Linked DNA regions of Homo sapiens: region 1 is linked to region 2. The links come from fine-mapping of genetic effects on plasma protein levels. Region 2 holds a variant in brackets. A gene starts in the other region. All regions are shown on their forward strands.

Region 1 (5,396 bases), not on the chromosome of region 2:
CAGGCAGGCCTGGGATCAAAATTAGGCTTTCTCATCTGGGACCTGTATGTGATTTTGGGTAAGTCCTTAACCCTGATAAGTCTTAGTTTTATTATTGGTAAATTAGGATACTAATATTTATTTCACATTGATCTTTTCAAGTTTGAGTAATTGTATGTGTGTGACTCAAACATATAATTGTCTATCCAGTATCTAATACTAATTATCTTTTCAAATATCACAAACTTACCTTGAAAAGAAGTTATAATTAGTGGATTTAGGAGCAGTAAAACTATTTCTACTTTATAGTTAAGAAAAAATGGGCACAGAAATGTTGAAAGACAAAATTAGAATGTCTGTTCAGATTAGGTTCTCCAAGCAGTACAAATCCATAAAAAAAAATTGCCTTAAGTTAAAATTTTATTTCTTTCATAGAGACAGCAATCAGAAGTAGACAATCTAGAGCTGTAGAGACTAGAAACCAAAAGTCTTCTATTTTATTGTTCTCCTACCTTTTCTTGCTCCTTCATAATCTAAGACAGCATCAGTCTCTAGTTACATTTACATTCCAGCCAGCAGAGGAAGAAATAACAAAGAATAAAGGACAAGGTATAAAGGAGATTCCTTGAAAGCTGCAACTTAACAATTTGGCCACAGCTTTATCAAGTAGCTACATCTAGCAGTGAGACTAAATAATATAATCTCTATTCCAGGAAGACTCTGTTGTGCTAAGGATTAAGGGTGTTCTTACAAAGAAATAAGAGAAGAGTGAATATCACGTTATGTAACTATCAGTGCATGCCGTGATATGTTTGATGTTCATTTGAGGTTTATTTGTAAGCGTCTAACTTATTTCCTCTTCTATTAATAATTTTTGCATGAGAAGATCCAGATTCTACTATTGACATTATTTCTTTTATATCCTTAACAAATATCTTTCCATCAAGATGTGCTCTTACTTTTTTCCCACTGTATATGGGATTCCAATAACTACTCCACTAGTGGACATAGAAGCAATGTCTAGATCTAGTTCCAGTATAGCTCCTCTTTAAATTCTCATTTGTATTTTGGTCTTCATTTAAAATCTTTCTCTAATATAGTTCAATATTTCTGTTTTATTTAACCTGTAACTGGTCACACTATTACATCAATGACTGTGGTGTGTTACTTTAATTTTTGAGGGCTTATAATAATCTTCTAATATCTGTTATGGAAAGTTTCCTTTCACTATTATTATCCATTATTATTAGAGTTTTTGTATTTTCTTCATAATTTATTTTTTAGGCAAATTTTAGCCTCAGTCCTAAAAATCTTTCCAGAAAGCACATCTAAAAATCCTGTTAATATTTCTCATTTATTGTACAAATTTATAAATTAACATGTTGATAATGTTGAGTCTATTGAGAAACATTGTATGACTTTAAAACTGTTCAATTTTTTTGTAGTCTTAGAGATTTTTCCAAACAGATCTACCATAATTATACATTTATATGTTGGCCCTTTTGTTGACAATAAAATGAGGACTTTTCTTCCATTTTCACCTATTATATTTCCCAATTGCTTTTATATATAAAAGCTATTGATTTATATATAGTAATTTAGTTCTTAACCACTTTAGTAAATTTTTTCTTTGTAGTTACCCTTCTAGTTTATTCTCTTATGTTTTCTGAACACTGTCATATCATCTATAAGGGAAAGTACTAGCACATCTTCATTCTCAATTTTATACCTCTAATTTATTTATCTTTACTAACTTTATTGTTTGGTATCCTCAAAGAAAAGTTAAATGATTATAATGCTGGTGGTCATTTTTATTTTATTTCTGACCTTAAAGGAGTGCTCTTAAGATTTCTCCATTGAGAACAATCTGGCATTTGGTTTTAGAGTAACACATCTTACAGTACATATTCACGTATATATTCTTATAAACATTTAATATACTTTTAAAATTTCCAGAATGATTGCATTCTTGATCTATAGTAGCAATTCCTACCATTCCCTTTTATATTAATATATCTGGAAAATTTATTAATTATCAAATGGCTATTGGGTAAATAATATGACAGGAAAAAAGAGTGGAATCATGCTGTAGGATGTTTAATGTGGACCATGCCAGGAACAAGCAGTACCAGTGACCTACTATGAAGCATATGCATCTAATTGTGTAAATAATTGAGATTTTCAGATGCATTACCTATTAATAAGGCAAGAATTTTTACTATGTGTGAATAAAACTTCAATAACAGTGGTTGAAACAAGAGAGTGGGGTGTTTCTTGCTCAGGTAAAACTCAGATATAGGAATTCAAGGACATCTCATGGCTCCACAGCCCTCTGGGACTCAAGCCACCTCCAGCTTTGCATTCTGTCATCCCTAAGATAGTGCCTTGCGTTTAGGGGTCAGAATTGAATTTCAATCATCACATCAATAATCCAAGCCACAACATGGAGGAAGGGAAGAGGAATTGACATGTGCCCTTCATTTTAGGACATGTTCCAGAAATTGTGGATACTATTTCTATTTATGTCTCTGTGGTCCACACTTAGTCACATGGTTGCTTGTGTAAAGCAAATTGGAAATTTAGCCTTAATTCTGGGAGACCATATTCCCAGCTAAAATTCTACGATTCTTTTACTAATAAAGAATGAAAAATAGATATTAAGAATTAACTAGCAGGTTTTGTTCCAGCAGGCTGACTTTCATTATTGAATTGAGCTAATTAGATATTCTTTAAGCTTCTTTCTTGAAGCAGAACATTGTATTACAACTGGATCACACATATTTTTAGTACACATTTGAAGATTATTATAAATCCTAGTATTTCCATCTCCAGCTATTTAATATTTTCCATGAAATATGTTAAAGTATTTTTATTAGAGGGAAGCATTCTAAAGCCATTTGTGATGTATTTTGTAATCACAATGCAGCCTGGGAAACTTCTGGAAGGTTTTTGTTGATAAATAGTTTTATCTAATACATTATAAACAAGCCTAACCTTGTATTTAGGTTCTGACACAGTATTCTGACGCTGAAGAGTCTGGGAAATTTAATTGTCCTAAATGTTAGCTAATACATCAATTTCTTCTACATTTTCACCCTATCCAGGAAAACAAAAAAGCAAAGTGTTGATATGCTGTGAGGTTAGCAAATATCATGACTTCCTCTTCCATTCTCCAATAAAAGCCCTGCTACGATCGCAATCCCCAGCTCTGGCACAATGGCTTTTCTTCCTTCCTGGGTTTGTGTACTAGTTGGTTCCTTTTCTGCTTCCTTAGCAGGGACTTCCAATCTCTCAGAGACAGAGCCCCCTCTGTGGAAGGAGAGTCCTGGTCAGCTCAGTGACTACAGGGTGGAGAACAGCATGTACATTATTAATCCCTGGGTATACCTTGAGAGAATGGGGATGTATAAAATCATATTGAATCAGACAGCCAGGTATTTTGCAAAATTTGCACCAGATAATGAACAGAATATTTTATGGGGGTTGCCTCTGCAGTATGGCTGGCAATATAGGACAGGTAAGAATGACTCTTGTTTTCATTGTAATGATCTACCGATAGACCTATGAAGTATTTGGGAAATTGGACTCTGTATATACCCTACTATGTTTTTAAAAATTGATTCTTTATCTTGTTCTCTTTTCCCTTATAATCATTGTTTTTCTACCTATCCTTCTCCTTATCCACAAATCCTTCTTTTGTGGGTTGTGTGTTATTATTAGAAGCTTCAATGAGGCATAAGACATAGTTATCAACTGTGAAAAGACATCACATCTCATCTATTGAGCATTTCACAAATATTTGTTGAAGTTCTACTAAGTGCCACACTCCTTTCTAAGCAATGAGATGAACAAAACAGTCAAGGGGATATACAAAGTGATGTCCAATTAGTTTGAATTTCTTGAAGTTCTAATTATGATATGAGGTTATAAAGAAGCATCACATTGTTCATGAAGATCTTTCTCTGTAAAATGTTTGCTTCCTCTTGGAAATAAGGTACCTTACAGTGTATAGACAGAAGTTACATTTTGGGATAAAATATACATGAATTGAAAGATACTTTTGTTCTGGTTGATAGAAGCTCATGAGAAAGAGTGGTGCCTGTTGCCCACTCCCTGCTGATGACACAGCCAATAAAGAAATTATTGTGTGTGAGAGAGAGGTTAAGAAAAGAGCAATTTCATTTGGAAGAAAAACAATGATTATTTTCTAATATTTACATAATGCATATTACAGGTGAAACACCTTTGGTGCTTTTTCTCACCTCACATCACAACCTTATAATGTAGTTAATATTATTATCCCCATGTCATAGATGAGAAAACTAAGGCATTAGAGGTTATTTAGATAAAGTCAAGCTAGTAAGTGGTAGAGCAGGGGTTTGTTTTGACTCTCGACCATCTCTTTTCATCTGTATGCATATTGCTTCATAGTTTCGATTAGAAGGTAGAGGAGGAAATAGAAGAGAGTATCCTTACAAAAGTAAATAATATTTAGGACCTATAACTCAAAAGTAGAAAACTGTGTTGTTAAGGAAAAGGAAAGAAATTAGAAACTAAAAAATAAAAGATAAAAAAAGAATGATGGGAATACAAACACATATCATTCAGAAATAAATGCTTTTGTATCTACAAACAAAATCTATGTGGTTAAGCAATAGTTACAGCCAGTTTCAAAATGCGTATAATAAATACGACTGTGCATCCTCTCTCCTCCAGGCAGATTAGCTGATCCAACCCGAAGGACAAACTGTGGCTATGAATCTGGAGATCATATGTGCATCTCTGTGGACAGTTGGTGGGCTGGTATGTTCGTTTAAGTGGCAAAATAGATATTAACCTTTCCTGAAAGAAAGCATTCAAACCTAAAATCTTAGGGACAGAGACAGAACTAAAATAATCCTGTTCCTATTTTAAAAAGGAATCTATTTCACCGTGTACCTTATGGCCTTTAGGTCACTTTAAGGGATTTAAGAGCCACAATGTCAATAATGATTCCTTAGGACATATCCAGCTTTTCACAGAAGGACGAAAACAAGGTTCTGCAAAAGCAGTGGCCTCTGAGGGGCCAGCTCTGGTAGTTAGGTGGGAGGTCCAACTGATGACAAAGAATCTCCAGAATAAGGAACGATGAGAAGTGAGACATCAAGACAAATGATGCTTTTTCATTTTGCTCAGACCAGATGTGGTTAATATTGAAACCCATAAACATGCCAGAGATTAATACCTACTGCAATTCATTATACCAATCAGTAATCTCAGGCTTTAATCATATACTTAATGCTAAAATAACCAGAAGGTATTTTCTAATTCTTTCATTTAATTTTATGCTTTAGTAATGAAAACAATTTATACCACAAATCCTTAGAGGTATTTCTCAATAGTTAGAAACACGACCACATTAAATTTCACTTTTTCAG
Region 2 (5,396 bases):
TTACCTTTTAAATTTTTTATTATTATACTTTAAGTTTTAGGGTACATGTGCACAATGTTCAGGTTAGTTACATATGTATACATGCGACATGCTGGTGCGCTGCACCCACTAACTTGTCATCTAGCATTAGGTATATCTCCCGATGCTATCCCTCCCCCCTCCCCCCACCCCACAACAGTCCCCAGAGTGTGATGTTCCCCTTCCTGTGTCCATGTGTTCTCATTGTTCAGTTCCCACCTATGAGTGAGAATATGCGGTGTTTGGTTTTTTGTTCTTGCAATAGTTTACTGAGAATGATGATTTCCAATTTCATCCATGTCCCAACAAAGGACATGAACTCATCATTTTTTATGGCCACATAGTATTCCATCGTGTATATGTGCCACATTTTCTTAATCTAGTCTATCATTGTTGGACATTTGGATTGGTTCCAAGTCTTCGCTATTGTGAATAGTGCCACAGTAAACATACGTGTGCATGTGTCTTTATAGCAGCATGATTTATATTCCTTTGGGTATATACCCAGTAATGGGATGGCTGGGTCAAATGGTATTTCTAGTTCTAGATCCCTGAGGAATCGCCACACTGACTTCCACAATGGTTGAACTAGTTTACAGTCCCACCAACAGTGTAAAAGTGTTCCTATTTCTCCACATCCTCTCCAGCACCTGTTGTTTCCTGACTTTTTAATGATTGCCATTCTAACTGGTGTGAGATGATATCTCACTGTGGTTTTGATTTGCATTTCTCTGATGGCCAGTGATGGTGAGCATTTTTTCATGTGTTTTTGGCTGCATAAATGTCTTCTTTTGAGAAGTGTCTGTTCATGTCCTTCGCCCACTTTTTGATGGGGTTGTTTGTTTTTTTCTTGTAAATTTGTTTGAGTTCATTGTAGATTCTTGATATTAGCCCTTTGTCAGATGAGTAGGTTGCGAAAATTTTCTCCCATTTTGTGGGTTGCCTGTTCATGCTGATGGTAGTTTCTTTTGCTGTGCAGAAGCTCTTGAGTTTAATGAGATCCCATTTGTCAATTTTGTCTTTTGTTGCCATTGCTTTTGGTGTTTTAGACATGAAGTCCTTGCCCATGCCTATGTCCTGAATGGTAATGCCTAGGTTTTCTTCTAGGGTTTTTATGGTTTTAGGTCTAACGTTTAAGTCTTTAATCCATCTTGAATTGATTTTTGTATAAGGTGTAAGGAAGGGATCCAGTTTCAGCTTTCTACATATGACTAGCCAGTTTTCCCAGCACCATTTATTAAATAGGGAATCCTTTCCCATTGCTTGTTTTTCTCAGGTTTGTCAAAGATCAGATAGTTGTAGATATGTGGCATTATTTTTGAGGGCTCTGTTCTGTACCATTGATCTATAGCTCTGTTTTGGTACCAGTACCATGCTGTTTTGGTTACTGTAGCCTTGTAGTATAGTTTGAAGTCAGGTAGTGTGATGCCTCCAACTTTGTTCTTTTGGCTTAGGATTGACTTGGTGATGTGGGCTCTTTTTTGGTTCCATATGAACTTTAAAGTAGTTTGTTCCATGTACAAAAATCACAAGCATTCTTATACACCAATAACAGACAAACAGAGAGCCAAATCATGAGTGAACTCCCATTCACAATTGCTTCAAAGAGAATAAAATACCTTGGAATCCACCTTACAAGGGACGTGAAGGACCTCTTCAAAGAGAACTACAAACCACTGCTCAATGAAATAAAAGAAGATAGAAACAAATGGAAGAACATTCCATGCTCATGGGTAGGAAGAATCAATATCGTGAAAATGGCCATATAACTTAATTGTATCACAGTTAGTATAAAAAACTCTCACTGAAGACGGTAGGGACAAAAGTGCTGGCCTACATAACTTTGAAAATAAGTGGAGTCTGTAAAACTAAAGGTCAAAGAAACTACACATAAGTACTGCAGTATAGTTAATAAAGTTGTTTCTCATAAAGTTATTGGTTAACGATTCTGATGTTTTTACACATGTATACCAAAATTAAACAATTAATAAATGGATGGCAGATCATGGCAGGCAGTTTCTCACTGTTGGAGCAGGAGTTTGCAGATAAGCAAGGGGGAGATGGAATGATCCATGTACTAATGGATCAGAGTCGGAGATGTCAGTATGAACTTAAGTTTAGCTTAATATGGATATATATAAACACCAATTATTTCTACATAAAGAAATATTTCTGTATAAGTACATAAACACAGGTTACTAAGGGACTAGAAGCAAAGACACACAAGAGCAATGAGCATACCCAGATCTTGGTTTCTGATGCCACTATCTGAAAAAAGAAACTAGGACTCCTTAGAGAAATGGCTGATTCTACGACTGGGGCAGGAAATATACAAGATGAACCTGAAATCCCTTGTAGAACCAGAAAGTGAGGAAGGGCTCATTAAAAAGTGGGGGGAGTGGGGAGAGACAAGAGATGAACCTCTCATGCAGAATAGTTCTAAAGAATTTGTATGAATACTCAAGGAAGTGGAACATAACTCTCCACTCCTTACACTTGGAAAGAGGGAGGGAAAGAATAACTTTACAATGAAAAAGACTTTCAAACACTGTCTCCTCTGGGTGACGAAGGACAACATAGAAAGGGACAAGTTATGTTGATAGTATATACTCCTGATGTGACATGATGAAAATGGCACATTAACTTTGCCTCTGAGGTCTTTCTAATCAAAAATCCCATAACTCCAGTCTAATCAAGAGAAAATTATCAGACACATCTTCACAAAGAGACATGCTGCAAAATACCTGACCAGTATTCTTTAAATCATCAAGGTCATCAAAAGCAAGGAAAGTCTGAGAAACTGTCACAGCCAAGAGGAACCTAAGGAGACCCAACATCTAAATAAAATAAATAAATCCCC[G/A]TCCAGGATGGGGTCCTGGGACAGAAAAATACATGAGGCACGACTAAAGGAACCTGAATAAGATATGAACTTTAATTAATAATAATGTGACAATTGGTTCATTAATTGTAACAAATATACCATGGTATTGTAGGATAGGAGAAACTGAGTGCAAGACACATGGGAACTCCATGTGCTAGCTCCACAATTTTTCTATAAATTTAAAATTGTTCTAAAAATAAAGCTTGTTTAAGAAAATAAAAACAGGGGGATGGCAGCTAGATGCTAGGCTACAGACTATCAATGCATAAGATTTTAATCCCTAAATCATTAGTCCCTGCATCGTTAGGACTTAACCTGCATCAGTTTCCAGGGCGAAGGAAACTCGATGAAAGGAAACTTCTTACATTCATATGCCTTGTCACACTGTGAGTCACACTCACCAAATGGTCTCTCCAATTTACTGATTATATTAATACTCCTAAATTACTCATCTATACCTTCACCCACTTAAAATAATTGGGTTTTTTATTAAATACAGTATGTATGTTATTTTCTTGGGCTGAAACAACTCAATTAAATTACCACTAACTCAAAAGGAAATCAGAAATATAAAAAGTTTCATTCTCGGAATACTGTCTCTGGGAGAAAAAGGCGGGTTTTCGGTTTTTGCTTTATTTTAGTTTGTTTTTTGGTACTCTTCAATGTAACTATAAGAATGGAAGTCATGGGAGAATAAAGGGAAAACAAGAAGGCCTGGTTACTGTTGTGGAAGAAAGACTTTCTTAGGAGAAAGGTTGAGGAATTTACTAGAGAGCAATGTCAGGAAAAATGAGAATCTGGAGGCCGGGCTAGGCACACATCAAAGGAATCTGCATCTAATTACTCAGAAAGAAGAAACTGAAAAAGAGAGGTTTTTGTTTCTAGATTGGAAAGGGTGACTACTAACATCCAAAAAAGTAAACAAATAACAGAAAACTAACAGAAGAGACCCCTCCCCAGGAACTAGTTATATAAAGTGGGCACATATTTGAGAAGAGAAAACCAGGAAAATTAGCCGAAATAGTATTACGTGATTTTCAGATTCACATATATGTTGTAGGTAAAGATGCAGGTATTTCCAGTGTGAGAGAGAAACATAATCAAGATATTTGAAGAGTCAGCTCTCATAGAAAAGAAACAATGAAAATGAGATCTACTAAGGCTAGCAAGGGGCAGGAGTAATATATGAGGTCAAGGTTTAGGTCAGATGCTGTTCTGATAGAATAATTCCTAAGTGGCATTACCCACAGTGGGGAAAAGTTGGACAAAATATGTTTGAATAAAGCCTCTTTTATTAGAACTAGAATTTATCAACTTCCTATCTCTCACTGTGGAGAACTCCATAAACATATTTAAAGAAAGTATTTAAAAAAAACCACCTGAGAACGTGAAAGCAAATGGAATATTAAAGGAATTTGAAGGCATTATATTCCAACAAATAGTTACCCATAAGATGGTAGAAAAGGAAATAGATCACATTTAGAAATAGTTTGAGTTTATATATCACCTGACCATGCCTAAAATGAGTAGGCGAGTACAGCATGGAGACCATAATTTAAAATATTGTATTGAATACTTGAAATTGCCAAAAGGACAGATCTTGAGTGTTCTCACCACACATATACAAAAAAAAGGTCACTATGTGAAGCGATGGCTATGTTAACTAGCTAGATTATGGTGAGCATTTCACAATGTATACATAAATCAAAATAGGAAGTTGCACACCCTAAATATATACAATTTCTATTTATCACTTATACCCTAATAAAGCTGAAAATATTAAAATATTTTAAAAAATACATATAAAGTTGATTTTATTTAAGTACAAAAATAAAATGAAATGAGTGGGCATTCGTGAGGGGGCTTTAAACTGTAGAGGAATATCTCACCAGCAGGAGACAGGTTGGGGAGATGTCTTCAACCTAAATTTTACTCTCAAACTGGAACATTCAAAAGCAGAGGAAGACAGAGTTTTGAGGAGCCAATGGCAGAGATGTTGGCCTTGCTAGGCCCTTTGGGGTTATAGGATTCAGAAGCAGCAACAGAGTATACATTGGTTTTAGAGTGAGGGGGTTTATCACAAGCTTGAAATGTTTCTGTGTGGGGGAGAAGTTTATGTTGGGGTCAGACTGTCTCTGGGTGGAGGGGAGATTATCTCGGGTCTGGCATGCCTCTGGTAGGGGAGAGGTTTGGAATTTTTTTGGTCAGAGATATTATTTGTGGTTTATGGTCATGCTGACCTTAGCCAGAAGGCTGATGACCTTTGGATTTAGGCAGTTTTTGATCAAGGTGAACTTAAAATGACAGTGCTTGTCCAAGATGGCAATACTCCTGCTCTGTCACCAGCGATAACAGGTTTTTTAAAAATATTGCATTACAAACACATTTAAAGGAAATTTTACTATTAGGAAATATATTCACTTACAGGCAAACAGGATTTCTCTTCTTGCCTGAGAATACATGCTCCAGCTATCAATACCATTTAGTGTGGACACCC

Direction of the effects. Alleles are on the strand shown, and positions count from the first base shown. The strength of an association depends on the size of the effect and on how common the allele is.
For the plasma level of the protein whose gene starts at base 3,184 in region 1, allele G in region 2 goes with a lower level than allele A (strong association).

What was found. PIP is the posterior inclusion probability: the model's chance that the variant is causal. The UK Biobank Pharma Proteomics Project read protein levels with antibody pairs (Olink). The fine-mapping took linkage between variants from a reference panel, not from the people measured, so its PIPs are less certain.
Region 1: it holds the start of C6orf58, and the variant in region 2 is fine-mapped to the plasma level of the C6orf58 protein (UK Biobank, PIP above 0.99).

The regions. Positions count from the first base shown.
Region 1 is chr6:127,573,991-127,579,386 of GRCh38, forward strand. It overlaps C6orf58 (chromosome 6 open reading frame 58), which reads left to right and starts at 3,184. Exons shown (of 6, transcript NM_001010905.3): 1 at 3,184-3,496; 2 at 4,696-4,782. The coding sequence starts at 3,196.
Region 2 is chr12:11,212,598-11,217,993 of GRCh38, forward strand. All of the region lies in intron 1 of LOC107987435 (a long non-coding RNA gene), which reads left to right. Among named protein-coding and RNA genes, the nearest start is that of TAS2R42, 28 kb to the left of the region's middle. The variant G/A (reference allele first, on the strand shown) is at 2,879.